2 separate regions of the Homo sapiens genome follow, and region 1 is linked to region 2. The links come from fine-mapping of genetic effects on gene expression. A gene starts in region 2. The other region holds a variant in brackets. All regions are shown on one strand. Distances are between the middles of the regions.

Region 1 (11,689 bases), 290 kb after region 2:
GTTTAGTTTCCTGTGAATTCATTCATCATAAAAATAATAATGAACCTAATTTTCTATTTGATACAGTCTAGTGGAAAGAATTCTAGAAGGGTTTAAAATAATGGTTGTAATCTCTGCGGTTTCAGATCTGGGGATTATCTCTTTAATCCTTAATCCTAACTGGATTATCTCTTTAAATAAAATATGAGACAGTGTATCTCGAAGAAGAGCCTTCATGTGACTTGAATCTGCCATTGAATTTAGATCCTTTGCCACGTTAGCCTTTTCTGTTTTCCCATCCCACATAAGATAAGTCAACTAAAATGAATTATTTTATTTTATAAACTATATTAATACTTGTTTACTGTATTCTTTGTTTTACAGATTTGCTGTCATGAACCGAAAAGTCCTTGATGTTTTTGGTACTGGTGCATCTAAACACTTTCAGGATTTCATCCCCAGGTTGGATCCAAGATACACAACTGTAACACCAGAGTTGCCCACAGAGTTTTCCTGAAGATGACTGTAACTTATTAATGTGACTAAATGTTTCATCTTGAAGAGTTAATTATGTTGAACACAAAGGAGGGGGCCCAAGCTCGAACTTCAGTGTTATTTCAGTTAGAGATACTCTTTTCATTTGTTTTGTTTTTCTTATGAATCAGAAATTCAGAAGCTTTTTAGGAAGATGTTGCTTAATAATTAAGCTTCCTCCATAGCCAGAATAAGATTCTGGATCACTGTAGTGACTGACATTATATATTATTGATCAAATTATGTCCACAAGCAATATTATATAATCTACGTAGAAGTGTAATAACAAACAAGAGTACACTTAAAATTACTTTAAAAGATGTCTTTAGTTCATTCCAATATAATTCTTGATTAAAATTAGGATTATTTCTACATTTTAGGATTTACAAAGGATCACGGGTACATGGATTTGGTCTATATATTTTTTTAAAGTTTTGAATTGGTATCTGTAGTAGTGGAATGTTATAGATTTGAAGTAACTCTCCACGGACAGTGCTGCTTTCGTGTAGAGCAATTTAATTGGAGAAGTGGCCATTCTTACTTCAGGGATGCAAAGATGGGTCTCATACCATTTGGATAAATGTCGTGGTATCCATGCTTTTTTTCAACTAATAACATCATCTCTCTTCATGACCAGTTAATTGGGCTATTTGGCAGCCCAGTGAACCTATGTACTAATGGCAAGTTAGGGGCAAATGGAAATGGACACATCCGATAAAGTTGAAATGTATGTTTTAATCTTTCACAGAAGTATTACACTTGAATATTTAAAAACAAAACTTTTAAACTTCCTATAGGTTTATGATGTTTGTTTTCATTTATATGGACATAATCCTTCATAGCTCAGTTTATATGCCATTGTTGTATTAGAAGGGATCAAAATCCTATGGAACAAAGTAGTCTTGGCAAGTTGGCAGTTTGTGTCCTCTCAGCTGTTTAACTTATGTAATGGATGTTTTGCACCTGAAAACACTATAAAAATCCAGTGGTTGTTTAAAAAGTCCATTTGTCACTAATTCCATTCAGGTTCTCCAACCTTCTTCTTGAATATCATTGTCACCATTTTTACTGTTAGAATAAAGAGGTGACACCATAAAGTCCTGCTGATAATGAGAGTAGTTCAGGACAGCTGTGATTGAAATATGGTCGCTATTTACAGTTTTTCAGGGAAAAGTTATACTTTTCTATGTTAATAAAGAGCTGAAGTGGTCTACAGTTAATGTGACATGTAGGGATGATGATATTTTTAAAATACATTTTGTTGCTAAAAAGTTTTTAGGCCAGTGCAAATTATGCAGTAGAACTTGTGTTGCAAAAGGAATTATAACCCATACTTTAAAAATGCTTAATCCCTCATATTCAATTTCATCAAGCCTTGTATACTTCTGCTTAAATGTAATTCAATCCTTGGTTGTTATGGCAAACAGAAACCCAACAAAAAGACAGACTCTGGTACTATGGTAACAGAGCCACTTTATCATTTGGTCAAAATTTGGCATTATGATTAGCTTTGTAGAACTGACCTGTTTATTTGGCAATGCTGTTAAAGGATCATTTCGGTTTCAGACTTCAAAGTTGATTAATAAATTTAATCTTAACTTTTTATTCACTGGAATCAAAACGATGGTTGGTACTGTGTTTACTGTTTAAAATGAAGTACTAAAGCCCTGAGAACTGCACCTCATTTTCTTTATCCAGAAATTGTGCTTATATATTTTCCTGTCAGGTTTAAAAAGATGTTTTAATTCATAAATTATTGTTTTCATTGACATTAAAAGACTGTGATATTGAAAGATGAATTACGAAATTTGCTGAGATTGTTTAGTAAAATTTTGCTGGTCAAAAAGGTGTATTTCTACAATTTACCTTTTCATTTTTATAAATTGCAGTCATTTTTTTAAATTTTATGTAAAATGTAAAATGAAATAGCTATCATGAAGCAGAATACAATGATGAATGTATAGGTTGAGTGAATAACCAATTTGCAGTGGTGGATTGAGAAGTCCAGTTTGATTTCATTGGGACAGACTGCAAAGTGTAGTTGTTTGAGCAAACACAAAGAAACTTTGTGTTTTTGAAGACAATCAGAATGATTACCTTTCTACCTCTAACTAATCAGGTATTGATTGACAACTTTTTGGCATTATAAATAAAGTAAAATAGATCTCTGCATTCCAAAATATGTTTTTTAGTTTATTTATATCCTGAAGAAATGGTAAGTTTTCACTGGAACTGATTACAGTAAACAATAATATGTCCCCTTAGTCTTTCTGACATTTTTATATAGATTGAGATTGAAAAACCGTGCATTTGGGGCAGTGGTATTATGGTCATTTCGTTGCTATTTTCTGTTTTAATAAAATCCTAGAACTAGTAGCAACCGAGTAAAGATTGAGTTTGCAAGATAACAGATTGTCTCAAATCTATTCAATTCTCAGCAGTTTTTCATCAAATAATTTCAGGATCCATTTTATTACTCATTTTTGAAGTAACACCTTTGGTTTAGTTTTATTTTCCCATAAATTCTGCTTTTGCTTCTGTAACTTTTTTCTTGAACTATAAGCATAGTCATCACTCAGTTGATATCTAGTTTATTTTTTGCCTTCATTCGTTGTTTAGTCAGTTGTTATTTAATTTAGAATTTTATATTTTTTTGGCTCTCAGATTTTATAATGAACTTTTATTAGACTGAACATGTATGTTTTTGATGGAATCCAAACTGAGCAAATGTCACACAGTATTTTCTTGTTGTGCTCGAGTGTTCGTCTCCTTGTAGATTGTATCTAGGCTAACATTTCATTTAGTTGTTAATGCTGACGTAATTGTTTCCTGCTTATATTTTATCATATCCCTGAGCTTCTGTGTGCTCTACATTTCATAGGTAATGAAAAGCAATGTCCTTTACTCTCAGGGAGCTTCGTCCACTTGCCTGTGTCACAACCTCTCCCTTGGTGCTAATTAGGAAGCTTCTTGTGGGACTGAAGGGAACTGACCACTGGAGCAATGGCCCAAATGTTGTTTTTGGAGCAGAGAAATTATTAGCCCAGAGATTCCTTAAATTCTCCGTGTGATTTATTTTTTTATTTTTTGAGTTGAGGTCTAGCTCTGTTGCCCGGGTTGGAGTACAGTGGTGCAATCATAGCTCATTGAAACCTCAAATTCCTTGGTTCAAGCAATTATTTCCCCTCAGTCTCTAATAGCTGGGACAACAGGCATGTGCCACCATGCCTGGCTAATATTTATTTTATTTATTTTTTTTTTGTAGAAACAAGGTGTTGCTATGTTGTCCAGGCTGGTCTTAAACTCCTGGCCTCAAGTGATCCTCTTGGGTTGGCCTCCCGGGACTCTGGGATTCCAGGTGTGAGCCACGGTACCTAGCCATATTTTTATTTGTATGAGTATTAAGTAGTTTGACACAGCAACAAAGTTGTCCTTTGTTTCCCAAAGGCAAAAGTATACATTTCTTACTAAGATATCTTATAAACATTCTCTCTCCTAACACCTCCTTCTAGTAATCATTTTCACATAGTAGAATACTTCACTCAGCTGAAAATGAGTGGCCAAGAAAAAAATACAAGAAAAGGAATAAGAAGTGATTATTTTCTTTAGGGCTGCACTTTGAATGTGATGAGTAATAAGGTTACCTTCATTGTGGAGGTGATGTTTACAATTGCCTCCAGCCCTTTACTATTGGTGCTGAAGCCACCATTGGTGCCAGCTCTATAATTTCTTCTTCTTGTGGAATTAACAAAGAAAGGAGTGTCAAGGACTGAGATGACCCTCAGATTGGGGGGCTGTCTTAGATTCTAGGGCTTTGTAGTACTATGTTTCTGTTTAAAGTAGTGGCCTCAGGTGACTTTGTAATAGCCCTGTAGTTGCAAAAAGGGTAACTACAAAGAAATGAAACTGACTCTAGTGTGTGTGACTTCTGGAAACAGAAGTGGGGCAGTAAGTTGGCCATGATATAGCTAGTGTCATAGGACTACAGCAGAGTAGTGAGTGAATGGCCTTAAGCTTACAGCTGTGGTGAATAAGAATGTGTGCTATTTTACACACAGAAGAAAATGATTGACTTTTGGTTGGAGGAAAGAATTTATATCTGGTCTTTTGGAAATTATTCTGTTGCTGTTTTATGTGGGCTCTCTCTCTCTCCCTCTCTCTCTCTCTCTGTCTGTCTCTCTTGCTGCTCCCTCTCCCTGCCACCTTGTCCATTCTCTGCTTGCTGGTGTTACTTTATGTTAACTAGTCTCCTTGGACTTCATTGCAACCTTTTAAGCCAGCCGTTCAAGTGAGAGGCTCTGGAGTGATCATAACGGTGATAACAATGGAGTAAACATTTCCAGAGACACTGATTTTTTTTTTATATGCTCTGTTTTTCTTAGGCAGGATGATGTAGAAGATAATTGCACAGATATGGAAGGAGATGTTTCTCTGTATGTGAAGCCTTTAAATCCAGAACAATTAATTTCTTCTCTTCTTAAAACCCCGTAACATCACTTGACTCTGGAATTTCCTATTTTCTTTTACTTTCTCCATTTTTTTTCCATCTGTCCCTCCTACGAATATGTTTTACATGAAATAATGTATTGGGTTTTATCTTTTGTCCCAGCAGACCTGAAAATCCCAGTATATTACCACAGACACACATACCATCTGGTCACCAACAGGGACATCAGGGCCAAGAGCAGTTTATACTTCTTTCTTTAGCTCACAAACTACTATAGCTTGCCTGTTCAGTTTTTTTTTTTTTTAATATTCAGTTTTGTGCCATACTCTCCCCCACCCCCAGCCTGCTGCCTCTGCAGAGCATAACATTCTAATCTTGTCAGACCGTGGATAATAGGATGTTCCCTGGTCTTGGCATAGAGGCCATAGGCATACAACATGCTTTATCTGCCTTGCTTAGACTCAGCATCCCTTTCTGTCTTGAGAGATTCAGGCTTCC[A/C]TAAAGTAGACCTGTAGACCTATGTTGGCTGAGGTCACCCTGCATTACTACTTTCCTCCATCCCTGAACTAGGACCAGTTAATTTTCGAAGTCTAGTTCTTCAGTGTCTATTAAACTTTTTCCAGTAGTTAATCGATCTCTTAAATTAATTTTCTTTTCAGATTATTTTTGGTCACCTAAGAGGACCCTGAAGCTATAGTGCCAAAGGTTTAAAGCATGAAGTACATTCTGTGGTTGGTCATTATGGGATTGGATGCCAAAAGGAATGGGAGAGAAGAGACTATAAACATATTTTAAGCCTTATCTCTTTTCTCCTATTCTTTTCTTTACCTTTCCTGGCCCATGCTTTCCTGCCATATCTTTGCTATGTATTTCTTCATCTTGAGCTCTCAAGGGAAAAAACAGGAGTCCTTATTTTTCTATTTATTTCAGGGAAAATTGAAGGTAAATAATATCTGCAAAGCTTCAGGAAGAAATTCAGTTGCATCTGAATCTGAGTCGGCAGTTTTTGATAGCCTGTCACTGCTCAGGGATAGCACTAAGGCTCTCTTCAGAACCAAAGGGCAGGATAAATAAATCTATGAAACTAGAGGCATCATTGAATCATCTGAGGACCTTTTTTTTTTTTTTTTTTTCACTAAAACGCTTCCTATAACTTGGATTAAAATTCAAAAATGGGATTGCAGTCATTGTTAATTGCTCAACTAGTGGCAGTTTTTCCTTGCTGAGGGAACACTGATGTTGTTTAAGACAGTTACATGCCTAGCCCCAGGGATGAATCATAATTGTTCTAGGCCTTTCATGTCTTTCCTTTCTTCTTGTCCAGATACTTTTCCAACCAGCCTTTACTCGGAGGTGTTCATGTGACCCTGTTTTGGCCAATAAAATGTAATGGAAAATCTGGGAAACACTTGGGAAAAATCTTCCCTCTCTGCTTAAAGGAAAGTTCTTTTTACCTCTTTTTCTCTTGTTCAAGGTATTAGTATTAGTCAGTAGGGTCTGAATCTGTGGCAGCAATCTTGCAGACATGAAATGAAAAGTACAAACATGAAAAACCAGCATATTAAAGATGCCAGGTCAGAAAAATAGAAAGAACCTGCTTCTGTGAGCCACTGAATGGTGCCATTAACCATCTGCATTTGAGCATTTTGAGAAAATAAACCTCTATTTCTTAAAGTTCTGTATCAGTCAGGGTTTCCCAGAGAGGCAGAACAATAGGGATAGAGAGATACATAGAGAGAGATATGAGAGGGATAGAGAGAGACACAGAGAGAGATATGAGAGGGGATTAAGGGAGTTGGCTCATGTGATTGTGGAGGCTGAGAAACCCCACCACAGGCCATTCATAACCTGGAGACCTTGGGATGCTGGTGGTCTGGCTCAGTACAAGTCCAAAAGCCTTGGAACCAGGGAAACTGATGGTGTAATTCTCAGTCCAAGGCTGAATTTTCAAGTCTGAGAACCTGGGGGTGGGATGGGGGAGTGATAGTTTTAAGTCCTGGAGTCCCAAGGTTAGAGGATCTGGGGTCCTAATGTCCATGGGCAGTTGGAGAAGAGTGTATCCCTGCTGCAGGGGAGAGAGAGAAGCCAATTCTCCTTTCTTCTGTTTTTATTCTACCCAGGCCTCCAGTGGATTGGAGGTGCCTGCCCATATTGAGGGCAGATCTTCTCTGCCTAGTCCACGCTAACTCACATGCCAATCTCCTCTGGAAACACCCTCACAGACACACCCCAAAATAATGCCTTACCAGTTCTCTAGATATTCCTTAATCCAGTCAAGTTGATGCCTAAAATTAACCATCACAGGCTTTATGGCTCTATTACCCAAGAATTCTGTTACTTTCAGCTGAAAACATTTCTAATGGACATATTCCAATTCTGTATAGATCAGATCTCAGTTTCATTTCCCATTATATCCTTCTCTCTCTTGATTTAGAATTCTCTTTTTCTCCACTCTTCTGTGTATGCTAAAATACTGTCAATCTCGTCTTTGAAGGTTTTGCTCATCTTTAAAAAATCTTAGTTGATTATGTTTTATGTGTCATTTAATTAAGGAATGAATTTGCTTATTTTTATTTCAGTAGCTTTTGGGGTACAAGTGGTTTTTGGTTGCATGGATGAATTGTATATTGGTGAAGTCTGAAATTTTAGTGCACCTGTCACCAGAATAGTGTGCATTGTACCCAATATATAGCTTTTTATTCCTTCCCCTTCTGAGTCTCCATAGTCCATTATATCACTCTGTATACCCTTGTGTATCCATAGCTTAGCTCCCACTTACAGTTGAGAACATACAGAATTTGATTTTCTATTCCGGAGTTACTTTACTTAGAATAATGGCCTCCAGCTCCATCCAAGATGCTGCAAAAGACATTATTTCATCTTTTATTTTTTATGGCTGAGTAGTATTCCATGGTGCATATATACCACATTTTCTTTATCCACTCATTGGTCTATGGGCACTTTGGTTGATTCTGTATCTTTGCAATTGTGAACTGTGTTAACAATAAAAATATATATACGAGTGTCTTTTATGGTAGATCTCCTTTTAGTTCTTTAAGACACCTCCATACTGTTGTCTGTAGAGGTTGTACTAATTTACATTCTCACCAGCAGTGTATAAATGAGACAGGGTCTCACTCTGTCACCCAGGTTGGAGTGCAATGGCATGATCATGGCTCACTGTGGCCTTGACGTCCCAGGCTTAAGTAATCCTTCCACCTCAGCTTCCCTGGTAGCTGGGACTACAGGCACATGCCACCATGCCTGATTAATTTTGTTTTCGTTTTTGTTTTTTTGTAGAGACAGGGGTCTCACTGTGTTGCCTAGGCTGGTCTTGAACTCTTACACTCAAGCAATCCTCCCTCCTAAGCCTCCCAAAGTTCTCCAGTTATAGGCGTGGGCCACTGTGCCTGGCCTTATAAGTGTCATTTTTAAAACATTGGTTTTTAACCATATAGAAATAAATCTAAAAAGAGCCTGCAAAACAAAACATCCTTTAAACATGTTTAAGTAGATAGAATATCTGAAATTCTGGATTTTTCAGTCACTTCATTATTATGCCGTGGCAGCCAAGTAATCCTTAACTTCAGTTGGATGAACTAAACTTCCTAAATACAGCTTCATTGCAGATTCCAACTTCTATGTTATCTTCTGTCATTTGCCTTTTAACACTTTCCTTTAGGGTTAAGATGGCTATATGAATGGCATTTTAAATTTCAGATCTTCATTGTTTCTTCTCTCAAAGAAAGTTTTCCCAGTCACACAGTTCTTTCCCATTGCTGTGGCATTCAAAGAAAGCTCCAGATGGATCTGCCTGAGTAAATATGTCTGTCCCCCACAACCACAAATAGGTAGAAAGACTCCAAATGGACAAATACCACCAGACTCGGTGTATTCTTGCATCTCAGAAGCTAATTTCTCTACCAGCTGAGTTGTGGGAATGGGTTCTTGGTAAACAGGATAGTATTGCTCAGCTAGCTTTTGAACTCCATGCACAAGCATTCTGTAATCTGCACCCATGCCACTATACACCAAACCTGTATGTTTGGTAATTGGTTCCACTCTGTGTACACTTTGCTCATCATATAGAATAGATTTCTGCTCTTCTCAGTTGCTAATACCATGCCATTTGCTGCTTTAACTCCCACTGAAAGGGCTTTTCCAGCTAGAGCAGCCAAAGCCTATTCAATATGGACAAATTTACTAGACAGGCCCAATGTAGTCAGCGAGAAGCTGTAACTAAGTTCCTCCATCTTTATCCAGATAACCCTTTTCTCTCTGTCTTAGTGCAGCAGTTTGCTAATACCCCCAATAAAGCACATTTCATTTGATTCTGATTAGCTATGTATTCATCTGTTGCTCTTTTAGGTTGTGGTATATATTTGAAGAGCAAAGACTACAGCTTATCCTCCAACTGAGTGTATGTCAGGCCTTTATAAAGGGAGTGGAGTTAGGATGGGAGGTGGTTTTCTCAGCAGCTGCTTGTTGGATGCCTGCTAACTTTATGGAGTCTGCAGACCAAAAATTCACACTTAATTTTTCCTATAAAAGTCTGGAAAATATTATTCTTACAAATGATTTTGTAAATACTGCAGGAAATTGGCTCCTACTACTATCCCAGCAGCTATTGAAGCCAGTTTGGCTTCAGGTCCTAGACAAATGATTTGTCATCTGTTTCATTTGTTTGTTTTTTTTCCTGACAGAGCTGGAATTCTGGATTGTTCCCCACTTTAAAAACTTCAAAATCCAAACCAGAAGTAGACAGGACAGGACACGAGGCTCCCCCTTCCCACTTAGTTTCACAGAGTGAAAAATCACAGGCAGTTTTCCCAGAATTATATTTTATGTCTGGCCTTTGAATAGCATATTAAGGTAAAAAAAAATTGTTGCTGTTGTTTTTCTATAACAGATAGGGCCTTAGATATTTGAGAGAGGAAAAGGATTGGAATCACTCTTATCAATATAGGTAGGGCTCTAACAAATAGCTTCTGATACTCATTTTTAGAGGAAAGAGAAGGACACTAAAATTTAAGAGGTGTGCCTCTGATATGTGGTAAATTGTTTATATCTCACTCAATCCTCACACCTTATCAGGTAGGTATTATTAGTTCTGTTTTATCAGCTAGGGAACTGGGAATCAAAAAGTGTGGTAATTTACCCAAGGTAACAATACTGGAATTTGAACTCAGATCTCCAAGAGTTGAAATTTTAAGTAGCATCGTTACTCACTCCCCTTAAAATTAATCATTTATCACTGAAATAAAAACCCTTGCCTCCCAAAGTGGTTGATGTTTACTTTCAGCTTAACTAAAAGAATAGGAACAAGATTTACCTTTTCATCTGAAACAACTAAAAGACCTGACAATACTGTATGTAATAAAACAATAGTTTTCAGACACTAGTCATGAAGCAGTGAATGGCAACAATCCTGAAAGAAGGAACACAAATGAGTTGTGTTTTATGATTCCCCTAGCTGATATCTGGAGAGAGATTCCAGATTGCAGCCTAAGGAAAGAGAACTAAGAGAGAAACCAGAGATTTCTCTGAGTTGAGGGAACAGAGGTGGGAGTCCAGAGAGGCTAAAGTCGATGAAGTTCATAAGGCAGAGTACAAAAGAGGAGAGAGCTGCACAGAAAAAAGGCTTGCAGATCTCAAGAGCGTCCCCCTTGAGACATAAGCTGAGTACTTCGGCATGCATGGGAAAATTACCAAGGTTGGAGAAAGAACCACCCGAAAGGAGCAGAGGGAGCAATCATTGGAGTTCACGCAAGGAAGCGAGTAGTTTGTGTTCCTGCTAGCCAGAGTAGCACAATTCATTTTACAAAGGGTGCTGGATAGAGTAGTCAGGAAAATAGAGCCTCATAGGGGAGCAAAATTAACCCTAGACTAAAGGCTGGTCTCATCTTACCTATTGAAGCTTAAAAGCCTCAGTTTCCGGCTGGGCACAGTGGCTCATGCCTGTAATCCCAGCACTTTGGGAGGCTGAGGCAGGAGATGGAGACCATCCTGGCTAACATGGTGAAACCCCGTCTCTACTAAAAATACAAAAAATTGGCCGGGCGTGGTGGCTAGGTGCCTGTAGTCCCAGCTACTCAGGAGGCTGAGGCTGAGGCAGGAGAATGGCGTGAACCTGGGAGGTGGAGCTTGCAGTGAGCCGAGATCGTGCCATTGCACTCCAGCCTGGGCAACAGAGCGAAACCCCGTCTCAAAAAAAAAAAAAAAAAAAAGCCTCAGTTTCCAAATAACTGTCTCCTAGAACGAAGTACCAAAAAACAAAAACAAAAACAAAAACAAAACAAAACAAAAAAACACCCAGAAAATACATCCTGCAAGAGGAAGAAAAAAGTGATAGAAATAGAATCAGAAATGACGCAAATAATAGAATAAGTGCAAAAGAACATCACAGCTATATGCCGTATGGTCAAGAAAGTAGAGGCCAGTTTAACATATTAAGTAGAGATATAGAAGATAAAAAAGGGACCAGAAAATAACTTGTAAGAGATGAAAATACAATGTATTAATAAACTTTTTTTGTTATTTTTGAATGTATTTAAAAGATAATTGATTTCCTAAAGCAGAAATAATAACAGTTTATAGTGGAGTTTATAACACATGTCAAAATAAAACAATCACACAAAGTTCAGGATTCAGCAAATGAAATTATACCATTGTAAGTTTCTTATGTGCTATGAAGTAAGTACATTACATGAAGGAAAACTGCATTAAGTT
Region 2 (11,689 bases):
TCCAGGCTGGAGTGCAGTGGCACCATCTCGGCTCACTGCAAGCTCCGCTTCCTGGGTTCACGCCATTCTCCTGCCTCAGCCTCCCAAGTAGCTGGGACTACAGGCGCCTGCCACCATGCCCGGCTAATTTGTTTTGTATTTTTAGTAGAGACAGGGTTTCACTGTGTTAGCCAGGATGGTCTCGATCTCCCGACCTCGTGATCCTCCCACCTCAGCCTCCAAAAGTATCTTTTACTTTTACATTCTGTGGTTGGAGTGGTAGGGGTTTGGAGAGAATGGTGTCCTTAGCTGTAGCTTCCAAGTACTGGTAACATCAAACTAATATAGATGCTGAGAATTCTAGACAGTGTATGTACCTGAATATTTTGTAAGGCCACTTGAGAGTTTTTTCTACAATCTTTGAAGGCTTGAAGGGAGGAAACTGTTAGGAAAGGCTGGAGAAAAAGGGATCCCTGTTATGCAGTGGCAGAAAGTTTGGCAACACTGTTGCATGCTGAAATGCAGAAAATAGAAAATATATCTAACAAACTGGTGTATTTGCAGTTAAGGAAATTTCCAGACAGACTGTTGAAAATGCCAACTGATTAAAAAAAAAAAACCTATGTGGAATAAGATGTAGAGAGGTGAGATATAAAAGGAACAATTTCATTTTTAAGCAAAATTTAGAGAAAATATACACAGTCTGGGAACTTTGGGTTCAAAAATAAAACTGCTTTTCACTTCCAGCCTCTCCAGATGGTGAAACAACTAAGGCATTGCCTTAAGGGGAAGGTACAATCCAGGGTGCAGCTATTTAGATTTTTTGTAAAGACTGTACAAAGATTTAAAGCCATTTTACCTAGACCATTTCAGCTAGACAAAAGCACTTCTAAGTGTATAAGGGTGTTTTCCATCAGCTTTCTTACTCTCAGCCCAAGACGGAAAGTGTTTGTCTCAGAGGTTTGTGAGTGTGGCTTTTTTTTCTATTGGAGTGGATTATAATTTGATATATATGAAGTCCCCAAAATCTTAAAGAGAATTGTATTGGCAGACACACTGCCTACTTGGACTGAAAGGGCATATGTATCTTTTAATACTCCAGATTTGAATATTAAAATTTATATTTACATATTAGAAACTCAATATTTTAAATAAAATGACGTAAGGAAAAACCTGAAGTTATGTTGCAACAAAAATTAGTAGAAAATTAGAATTATGGCTGGGCATGGTGGCTCATGTCTGTAATCCCAGCACTTTGGGAGGCTGAGGCAGGTGAATTACCTAAGGTCAGGGAGTTTGGGACCAGCCTGGACTACATGGTGAAACCCCGTCTCTACTAAAAATACAGAAATTAGCCGGGTGTGGTGGTGGGTGCCACTAATCTCAGCTAGTGAGGCAGAAGAATCACTTGAGCCCAGGAGGCGGAGTTTGCAGTGAGCCGAGATCGTCCCATTGCACTCCAGCTTGGGTGACACAGCAAGACTCCGTCTCAAAAGAAAAGAAAAGAAAAGAAAATCAGAATCATATGTAGCTTTGTGAAAAGCTTGGTTACTGACTGTTGCTGGAATCAAGAGCTACTACAGTGTCATACTTCGAGTTTGCCGTACTTTGCCATTGTACTTGTGCCTGATAATTATTTCTACAATGACTGCATGTAGATCTAAACTAGATTAGTGTCGTTAAATCCTCTGCATTAGATCTTAAGAGCTCTTCCATTCTTTTTCGTTGACATCTTCAAAACTAGAATCCTACAAGAGCAACAACTTTGTGTTTTTTTTTTTTTTTTCATTCTTCCATCACAAAGAAAGGGGCAACAATTTTCATCTTGGCGTTTCTTCAAAGCCTTTGAATTCCATCATAAATTGCCAGATTAGTTTTCTTCATCCACTGTGCACCTTCTTTGGAGAAACTCTTTGCTTCACCTTGTTGATGAACCCTAAAGCCCTCCCTGCGTTTTTTTAATGAAAAAGAAGAAACAATGAAGCCCCCAGAAAGTATCCAATCAAGCCACTGTCATAGCCAACCTAAAAGAATAAATGACCCATGCAGATGCAATGTTTAACATTATCTTTAAACTTAATGGTGGCATGAAGAGAAGGCTTTCTTTTAAAAAACAGCCTGCTATATCTTATAATACCATATAAAGAAATTTACAAATGTAAGCTACTGGTTTAACTGCATACTGCTCCATTTTGCAATTTTTTTTGCATCCTAAAGCACAGATCATCTCCCCTGAGGATTTATCAATGCCTTCCTGTTTTGGAATCTCCATAGCAGCACTAGAAAAGATAGAGTATCCTTTCTTTTGAACTTGGGAGTTTCCCTGAAATCACCCCTTTGCCACCCAGCTCATCAGCATTGTCCCCTTTGGCACCATCCCCTTTTTCTCAAATTTCTTTATGCTTCAAGTCTCCATTTAACAGTTAATTAGGACCAGGTGTGTTGGTGCACACCTGTAATCCCAGCAGTTTGGGAGGCTGAGGTGGGTGGACAGCTTGAGCCCAGGAGTTCAAGAGCAGTCTGGGTAACACAGGGAGACCCTACAAATAATTTAAAAACATTAGCCAGGTGTGGTGGCGTACCTGTGGTCCCAGCTACTCAGGAGGCTGAGGCAGGAGGATCTCCTGAGCCCAGGGGATATAGGCTGCTGTGAGCTGTGATTGCGCCACTGCACTTCAGCCTGGGTAGCAGAGTGAGACCATGTCTCAAAACAAACAAAAAACAGTTAACTAAAAGAAACCACCTGGTTTTAATTGTAATTTTAAAATTTCCTTATTTATTAATGTGTAATTGCTGGGCCACATAGTAAACATATTGTTTATTATCAGGCATGAAAACTATATTGTGCTATTACATTCAGAAGCAACTGAGAGTTAACAATCATATTAAAAATTTTTTTTTTTTTGAGACGGAGTCTTGTTCTGTTGCCCAGGCTGGAGTGTAGTGGCACCATCTCGGCTCACTGCAACCTCCGCCTCCCAGGTTCAAGTGATTCTCCTGCCTCAGCCTCCTGAGTAGCTGGGATTACAGGTGTCCACCACCATGTCTGGCTACTTTTTGTATTTTTAGTAGAGATGGAGTTTCACCATAGGCCAGGCTGGTCTTGAACTTATGACCTCAGGTGATCCACCAAGCTCAGCCTCCCAAAGTGTTGGGATTATAGGTATCAGCCACCGTGCCCAGCTCGTATTAATTGTTTGGTGAATAAGATGTTATTTGTATAGTATTGTACATCTTAACATGATCATTTTTTGTTAATATTTGATACTATGTTTTAAATACTTGTTAAGAATTTTTTGGTTGATATGTAATGCATTTTATTTTTTCCCATTTAAAACTAAGTTCCTATTCAGCATTTTCTTGTGAAAGGATCACAGATATTCAGGAATGGATTATTGAAAAAAAATAAGCCTGCACTGCTATTTCTGTAATTTTTTGGATAAGTTTATGCTGTGTTTTTGATCTTCTTAGTTTCTGAATTGGAGATTTGAAAAAAATTGTGATTATCTTGTTCCTATTCTACCATTGTATATTGGATGTGTTGAGGCGGATGATAACTTTATCATGAGATCTGCATCTGGTCCTGAGGAATATTCTGGACTTTGGCTAGGATTCAGCAACTGCATGGAATTTTAGGTTGTCTCCCTTGGAAAAGGGAAGGTATGTCTATCTGTAGAAAGAATGGTGTGCCCGGATATTTGGGTAGCCAGAGACATAGAACTATGGCAGACACTGCTAGTTGCCTCTAATATCTGTTTTTTCCATTTTGCTCAGTAATAAAACCTCAAATGTTAGCTGGGCATTTGTCCCATTAATTAAAAAAGATTGTATTCACCATCCTCTCTTGCAATGAAGTGTGGCCATGTGATTAAGCTTTGTCCAAGGAACGTAAGTTGTAGTAGTTTGTATGGATCTTCTGGGAAGTTTTTTTAAAAACAGGAAGTATGCCCTTTTCTCCCCGCCCCCGCCCCCCCGTTTTTTTTTTTTTTTTTTTTTTGAGATAGAGTCTCTCTCTGTTGCCAAGGCAACAGTGGTGTGATCTTGGCCCACTGCAACCTCTGCCTCCTGAGTTCAAGCGATTCTCCTGCCTCAGTCCCTGAGTAGCTACGATTACAGGAGCGTGTCACCATTTCTGGCAAATTTTTGTATTTTTAGTAGAGACAGGGTTTCACCATGTTGGCCAGGCTGGTCTCAAACTCCTGACCTCAAGTGATCCACCCGCCTCAGCCTCTCAAAGTACTAGGATTACAGGTGTGAGCCACCGCGCCCGGCCTCTCTTCCCCTTTTGCTGGTCTTCCTGGCTAGCATGTTGATGTCATGTTATTTTCTAAGTTAGGGTGGAAATCACAGGTAGCAGATGGCATAGCAAACTGTCACAAAGAGGCTGGGATCCCTAATCGTTATGGAGCCACCATTTTATTCTAGGACTGCCTACCTTTACCTGAGAGAAAGATACTTTTATCTTTTTGCCATTGTTGTTTTGGACTTTTCATCTGAGTATTTCTCTTTTATTTTCTTCAAACAACTACACCTATCTGATATTATCTTGTTCAGTTTTCTTTGTTATTTTCTGTCTTCTCCCTCTAGAATACTAGCTTCGTGAAAATAAAAATCTTGTCTCTCTTGTTTCTGTTTGTTTCCTTAGCACAGTGCCTGGTAAATAGTAATGACTCAGTAAATATTTGTAGATGAATGAATGAAGACTAGAAGATTCGAATGGAATTCTTCTAAAGGTAGTTCGTTTCTGCTTTAAGAGACTATGGAATTTAGAAATCCAAAGAAACTGGCAGGTTTGTTACATGTGAGGAGATTGACAGAGGGGTTATATGACTCAAGCAACACAGGACCCTTGTCTTGCTAATTGTTGGCCAAGTTCCCTAGCCAGGTCTGAGTTCTAACACACGACTGCCGCCTCTACTGTGTGTGCTGTTTGGTTGATAAGCACCTATCAAAGATGCTGTAGACAGGATTGCTCCGTGGCCTAAGGTTTGGACAGGATGACCTATTGCCCTTCCCCACACACGGTCGGGGTATGAACATAGCTGAGACTTTTCAAGCCTTCGCAGGTATCACAGAGCTTGGAAAGCCCAGCACTTGGGGGTAGTTAGTTGCAACTAGCAGGCAGCCCTAGCTGTTTATTACCTGGGACTCTCGGGAAGGCAAGCTCCCGGTGCTGGGGAGGACGTTTGTCCCAGGCATTCCTCTGGCAACCCTCTTCCTCCACCAGCTCCCAACAAAGACATTTAATCCCTTTCTTCCACTACCCTCCGCTCTACTTGGCTTGCAGTTGGAAGCTGAAGTACAATTTGACCCAAGCCACCCCCTACTGCGCACCTGCCATAGCGCTTGCGCCCCGGAGCCGGGCACGGCGTCGCGGGGGTGGGGAGGCGGCTCGTCCCCGAGCTGCGCTCCCTCGCGTACAGCCTCGGCTCTGGGTGCGAAGATCCTCTCTGCCTCCGCTCACCCAGCCGCGCCGCCGCGCGGGAACGCGCCCCAGCGGATGCCCTCTTGAGGGAGCGCGCACGCGCCGCCTCTCCCCGCCTCCCCGGTGCGCGTCCCGCCCCCTTGAGCTGCGATACGCCGAGCGCTCAACATCCGAGGACTTTGGCCCAGAGTAACCCCGCTCTCGTGACCTTTCCCCTCCATTCCGCACCTCCGAGTGCTGGCCGGGCGAGAGGCTGGCGGCTGGGCTCTCGCGCCCCTCCCTGCAGGGCTCAGGCTCTCCCCCTCCTGTCTTCTCCGCGCTGTTCCTCGTCATGGCGGCCCTCAGCAAGTCCATCCCTCATAACTGCTATGAGATCGGCCACACTTGGCACCCTTCCTGCCGGGTCTCCTTCCTGCAGATCACCGGGGGCGCCCTGGAGGAGTCCCTGAAGATCTATGCTCCTCTGTACTTGGTGAGACCCGTCACCCGTCCCGCAGGGCGAGTTTAGTCTGGAAGATGGGCCGGGGGCTGCAGTTGGTGCTCCCGAGGGGCTCTGGGGGACTTGCCTTGTGTCGGGCTCTCTTTTGGAGGGGTCGGAGTGTTTTGGGGGGTCGGTAGGGGGAAGGGGGAGGTCGCAAGGGAAGGATATACCAATTCCTGCAAGGGAGAAGGAGGAGGGGAATTAGAGATTGAGCTGTCATCTGAATGCCTGTTGCTAGGAAGAGGATGGCTCCCAACTTTTAGAATTAAGTTTAGGACACTTAAAAACGTTAATTCAAAGACCAGCCTTATTTTCCTCTGGCCTGCCTTGTGATGGAGAGGTATTTGTAGGTCAGCGAGGCTATGAGAAGGACCTGCAATCTTTCCTCATCTAGTTTCCCCTGTTTTATTTTGCTTTTTTTTTTTTTTTTTTTTAATGAAGAAGGCATATTTGGCCCTAAGTCCCTGTGGCCTCAGATCTTGACTCAGTTTTGAGATGACAGGATTGTGATTTGGGGGTTTTGCAAGTGTTTTTGCAAGTTCACAGAACAGACTCCTGGGTTGAGATTGTGTGTGGTGATTTAAAGGGTGATGCCAGTCTTTCAGTCAGTGAACTTGGTTAGGACATCTGACTTTGTGTCACCTAGGACCTTCTGTTACACAACTTTACATACAGGGCAATTAATAGGGAATATTTGGCAGTATGTATATGTAACACTGAGGACTATTAAAGATGCTCTTAAATGTTCTCCGCAAAATCTTTTTTTCAATAATCTTATCCTTGATATTAAAGATTTATTATTACTTTGGCCATTGAAGTGCATTGTCTCATTTTCTTGCCTTACAGTTTGTGTCCTAAGAAGACAGATCATATTTTTTGTATGTCTTCTAAAAGTTTCAATATTCAGCAGATGATCAATTATTATTTCTCATTGAAGTAATTTAGATTTATACCCTAATGTTCCTGAAAGTGTGTCATGGCTGTATCTGTAGTACTTCTTGAAAAGTCTGATTATGTATTTCAGAGATAACACAGGAGAAGGTGATGACTTTGTTTGAGGTTGCAGGCACCCATTTCATTTTTATTGTATAGACTGATGCTTCTCACATTTTCATGTATGTTAGGAATCCTCTGAGGATTATGTTAAAATGGGGGTTCTAATTCATTAGGTCCTGGTGGGGCCTGAACCTCTGCTTTCCTAACAAACTCGTGGTAATGCTGATGGTGGGGGCTGCACTTTGAATAATAAAGATCTAGAGTAGAGGCCAGTAATTGTTATTGGAGCTGGAAATTTTTTCCTTGATTTTCTTTGGCAAAGATTCATGTTTATCTGCTTTTCCACATTCACTGTGGCCAGTCTATGTCTCAGAATTTTTCTTTTTATTTTTGGATACAGGGCCTTGTTGTATTGCCATTCTGGCTGGAGTGCAGTGGCGCAATCACGGCTCACTGCATAAGGCTCAGATTTGTAAAAAATAAAACATCTACAAACATTATTGAGCTCTTGATATACAACTATAGAAAAGATTGTTCCTGCTGTGAGAGGATTATGATATAGGTGGAAAGAGAGTTTATGCTATCTACTTCTCCCTCTGAAAATCCATAGCACTTTTCATTCATTAATTCATTCACTTAACAAATATTTGTTGAATGCCTGATACTTGTTATATCAATAGCCTAGACAATTTATGGATTATAGTCTATGATAGGGACATTCAGGGTAGCAATAGAAACATAGGTTCTCCTACTCCAACAAGGTAGGTTGGGGGTGTTCAGGAAAAGAGTTGTGTTTTACTACTATATCTCCAACAAGATTAAGTACTTATTGAGGATAAATTTTCCATCTCATGTGGCCTTGTACCCTTACATCTGTGTATTTGAAAATTTTGGTTGCTACTCCTCGGTAGTTGTGAAATAAAATTAGTGGGAACTGAATAGCATTTTATTTTATATTAGTGAAATGGAAGAAAATAAAAAATGTTAGGACATATTGCGCATACTAAGGGTAAGCATTATTTCATGACAGTTTTGTTTCAGTTATCCATGTAGGTATGGGTGGGGCTACTTGGAGCATATAGCTGTTCTCTTTGTGAGTGTTGGATAGTTGATTAAATGTATACCCCCATGTACTAAGATGCAAGGTGGTGTGGTGGAAAGAAATTGGACTTTAAAAAGTGATCAGGCCAGGTGCAGTGGCTCACGCCCATAATCCCAGCTCTTTGGGAGGCCGAGGTGTGTGGATCACCTGAGGTCAGGCGTTCGAGACCAGCCAGCTTGACCAACATGGTGAAACCCCATCTCTACGAAAAATATAAAATTAGCTGGGCGTGGTGGCACATGCCTGTAATCCCAGCTACTCGGGAGGCTGAGGCAGGAAAATCACTTGAACCTGGGAGGTGGAGGTTGTAGTGAGCTGAGATCATGCCATTGCACTCCAGCCTGGGAAACAAGAGCAAAACTCCATCACAAAAAAAAAAAAAAGGGATCAGGGTATCAGGATTTGAATCTCAGCTCTATCATTTACCAGCTATTTGACTTTGTATATGTTACTTTATCTTTCTTTTTGAGAATTAAATGAAATCATGCATTGATGATGTATCACATATTTTCTAGTTTATCATAGGTTTTGAATAGTTACGCATATTTTTCTTCCTCCCTTCTCCGGTGGCACTTAAGAGTGAAGTTCATGGAAGGTGGGTAGGGAAGGCCTCTTGAAGTAGGTGGCCCTTGACTTGTGCCTTGAGGGTAAGGCTATACAGACATTTATTCATGCAGTAGACATTTATAGCATACCTATTCTTAATGGAGAGGAGGGAGGATAATGTAAACTGAGGCAGAAAACTAAGTGGTTTTGTAAGAGAAGCAATGAATACATTGTCTATAACAGAACGTTTGCGTACAGGAGTTGTGAGCGATAACAACTTACATTTATTATGTGCTTAGTCCTTTACGTATTTTATCTTTTTTAACCCTTACACAACCCCAGCTTATTATCCCCATTTTATAGGTAAGATACCTGAAGGTTAGAGACATTAAGTGATTCACAAGATTTAGAGCTAGTAAGGAAAAAGACAGGATTCGGTTCTCATTTTTTTTTTTTTTTGACTGAAAGACTGAAGGACAGGCTAAAGGAGCCACTGTTCTGTGTGCATGCTATTGAGGTTTCTTTTTGAACAAAGGGGTTACAAGTACAAAATGATGCTTTCAGATGCTAAATCTGGTAGCACTGGGAAGACCGGATAGAAAAGATTTTTGAGAAATTGATGCAGCAATTTCACTAAGTAGTGGAAAGAGTCAGAACTCCTGTGGAATCTCACCCTGCAATTTACTATCAATATGATCTTTAGAAAAATTACCGAATCGCATGGAGCCTTAGTCCCCTTGCTTTGCAGAAGATGATTGTACCCATTTTTTAAGGTCTGTTGTGAGGAGTTAAATAGGGTAATAGTGCATTAATTATGATATATGTCTCTATCTTCTGTTAAAACAGTGGTTTGTATTTAGACTAGTGTAGTACCTCATTAAATGCTTAATATATGTCTAAATGAGTGAAGGTATGAATGAATAAGCATATGAATAGTGCGGGAGTGAAGACATATTTGGCAGGTCTGCCAGAGAAGATGAAAGGGCAGTTCTAGAGGCATTTTGTGGCAGAATGAACAGGACTTAGAGACCAAGGATATTGGGGCAGTATGAGGACTTCTTTATACTTCTAGGTTGTCAAGTCAGATTGTTGCAGTTGCCATTATTGCTAGAAATGGAGAAGTTCTAAAGACAAGCTGGTGTAGGGACCAATGGAGAGCTTTCCCCTTGGCCCTCTGAAGGTTCACCAAAAATCACTGACAGGAGGCCGATGGATTAATAGGAGAAAGGGCATGTACCAATTTATTTAACGTGTATACACGGGAGCCTTCAGAATGAAGACCCAAAAATACAGGGGAAATTATCTGTTTTTATGCTTAGGTTCAACGAAGTATAGACAGCTATGTAGAAATGTGATTGGACAATAATGGTAATAGACTGATTGGGGAAGCAAGGTCTGTCTGTCTAGATTCTTCTTGGCCTCTCTGTCTAAATTCTTCTTGGCCTCTCTGAGCATTCCTTCTTTTCTTTTGAGTATGGGGCAGGACCCTCTCTGGAATGGGGGCTTATGACCTACAGTCAAACAAGGTAGGTCAGATAGTTTCTTTATGGCCAGTTTTTACATGGAAAGGCAAAGGGAAAGTTAGTATGATATTTTAAGTTTTATGGCTGGCTTTGGGGAAAATAGGTTTTGGTTTTTATGACCTGCCTTGGGGAAAATTCTAGTTTCTAAGGCTAGCTCAGGGGAGAGTGGGACTAGGAGACAGGAGAGCAGGAGAAGGTCAGAAAAAAACTTCTGCTTCTAAGGCTGCTTCTGAGGCCTTCATTTTGTGGTATTGTATTCTGAGCCCCAACATGAAGGAAGATTTTTATCAAGAGTGTTTTCTGGAGCCTATAAAATGGGTCTTATGTATCTGCTTTTCATTGGAAACATTATCATGTGTGTTGTACTAAACTGATTTCTTCATGTCATATTTACTTTCTTGTTCTATACATTTGCCCTCATGCTTCTTTTAATCTTAGTATCTACAACTGTTTAGTCGGTATTCATCTTCTACTGTTTAAACTATTTCAAAATGTAGATGTATGATTCCTTTTATTATAATAGTGAATCTTTGTGTTTTCACAATTTGTAAAGAATATCAGCTCTCACTCATCATTTATTTCTGTAGTTTTGTTTTGTTTTTTTTTTTTTGAGACAGAGTTTCGCTCTTGTTGCTCAGGCTGGAGTGCAGTGGTGTGATCTCGGCTCACTACAACCTCCGCCTCCCAGGTTCAAGCCATTCTGCTGCCTCAGCCTCCCGAGTAGCTGGGATTACAGGTATGCACCACCACGCCCGGCTAATTTTGTATTTTTAGTAGAGACGGGGTTTCTGCATGTTGGTCAGGTTGGTTTGGAACTCCTGACCTCAGGTGATCCACCTGCCTCAGCCTCCCAAAGTGCTGGAATTACAGGAGTGAGCCACTGGGCCCAGCCTATTTCTGTAGTTTTTTTAAAAAGCAGATTCTTACATATTTTGTGATATACGGTAACAATGTATGCATGTACCAAAAATATATTTTAGAATTTTATATTGTATTTCTTGAATGTTAGTTATTGCTACATATTCTAAATAGGTGGTACCCCTTGCTGCACACATACATATGAAACAGTTATTAAACTGTTGGCTGGGTGCGGTGTCTGACGCCTGTAATCCCAGCACTTTGGGAGGCTGAGGCGGGTGGATCACGAGGTCAGGAAATGGAGACCATCCTGGCCAACATGGTGAAACCCGTCTCTACTAAAAATACAAAAATTAGCTGGGCATGGTGGTGTGCACCTGTAGTCCCAGCTGCTCGGGAGGCTGAAGCAGGAGAATCACTTGAACCTGGGAGGCGGAGGTTGTACTGAGCAGAGATCACGCCACTGCACTCCAGCCTGGCAACAGAGCGAGACTCTGTCTCAAAACAAACAAACAAACAAACAAAAAAAACTGTTTAACCCCTAGACTACCACTAAGATTAAGGAAAGCATAAGGCCCTTGTTTTTGTGGCAAATTTAGAATATACAGTTGCCCACTTGGGAGTATGGATTCTATGCTGTTGAGATTCTTAGGTACCTTCCCTAAGAAGGAAAACTTGTTCACTAACCTCAGATGGTTCTAACACTAAGACCTTTCTTTTCCTAGTTGGTTTTCTTTAGGACCTCTAGATTAAGGTACTGGCATTTACCTTTAGCTGAG

Direction of the effects. Alleles are on the strand shown, and positions count from the first base shown. SD is a standard deviation of normalised expression in the study named.
For the expression in prefrontal cortex of the gene that starts at base 5,624 in region 2, C is the low allele of the variant in region 1 and A is the other (moderate effect, 0.46 SD a copy in GTEx).

The links. PIP is the estimated chance that this variant, and not a neighbour inherited with it, causes the effect.
Region 1: its variant is the best candidate, but not a certain one, in a credible set for the expression of TMEM135 in prefrontal cortex (GTEx, PIP 0.53).

What each region holds. Positions count from the first base shown.
Region 1 is chr11:87,320,838-87,332,526 of GRCh38, forward strand. It overlaps TMEM135 (transmembrane protein 135), which reads left to right. Exons shown (of 15, transcript NM_022918.4): 15 at 364-7,987. The coding sequence ends at 496. It also overlaps the pseudogene LOC100420680 and the pseudogene PSMA2P1. Among named protein-coding and RNA genes, the nearest start is that of TMEM135, 290 kb to the left of the region's middle. The variant A/C (reference allele first, on the strand shown) is at 5,459.
Region 2 is chr11:87,032,311-87,043,999 of GRCh38, forward strand. It overlaps TMEM135 (transmembrane protein 135), which reads left to right and starts at 5,624. Exons shown (of 15, transcript NM_022918.4): 1 at 5,624-5,876. The coding sequence starts at 5,736. It overlaps LOC105369422 (a long non-coding RNA gene), which reads right to left and starts at 5,485. Exons shown (of 5, transcript XR_007062827.1): 1 at 5,314-5,485. RefSeq lists an enhancer at 5,099-5,599 and a silencer at 5,256-5,645.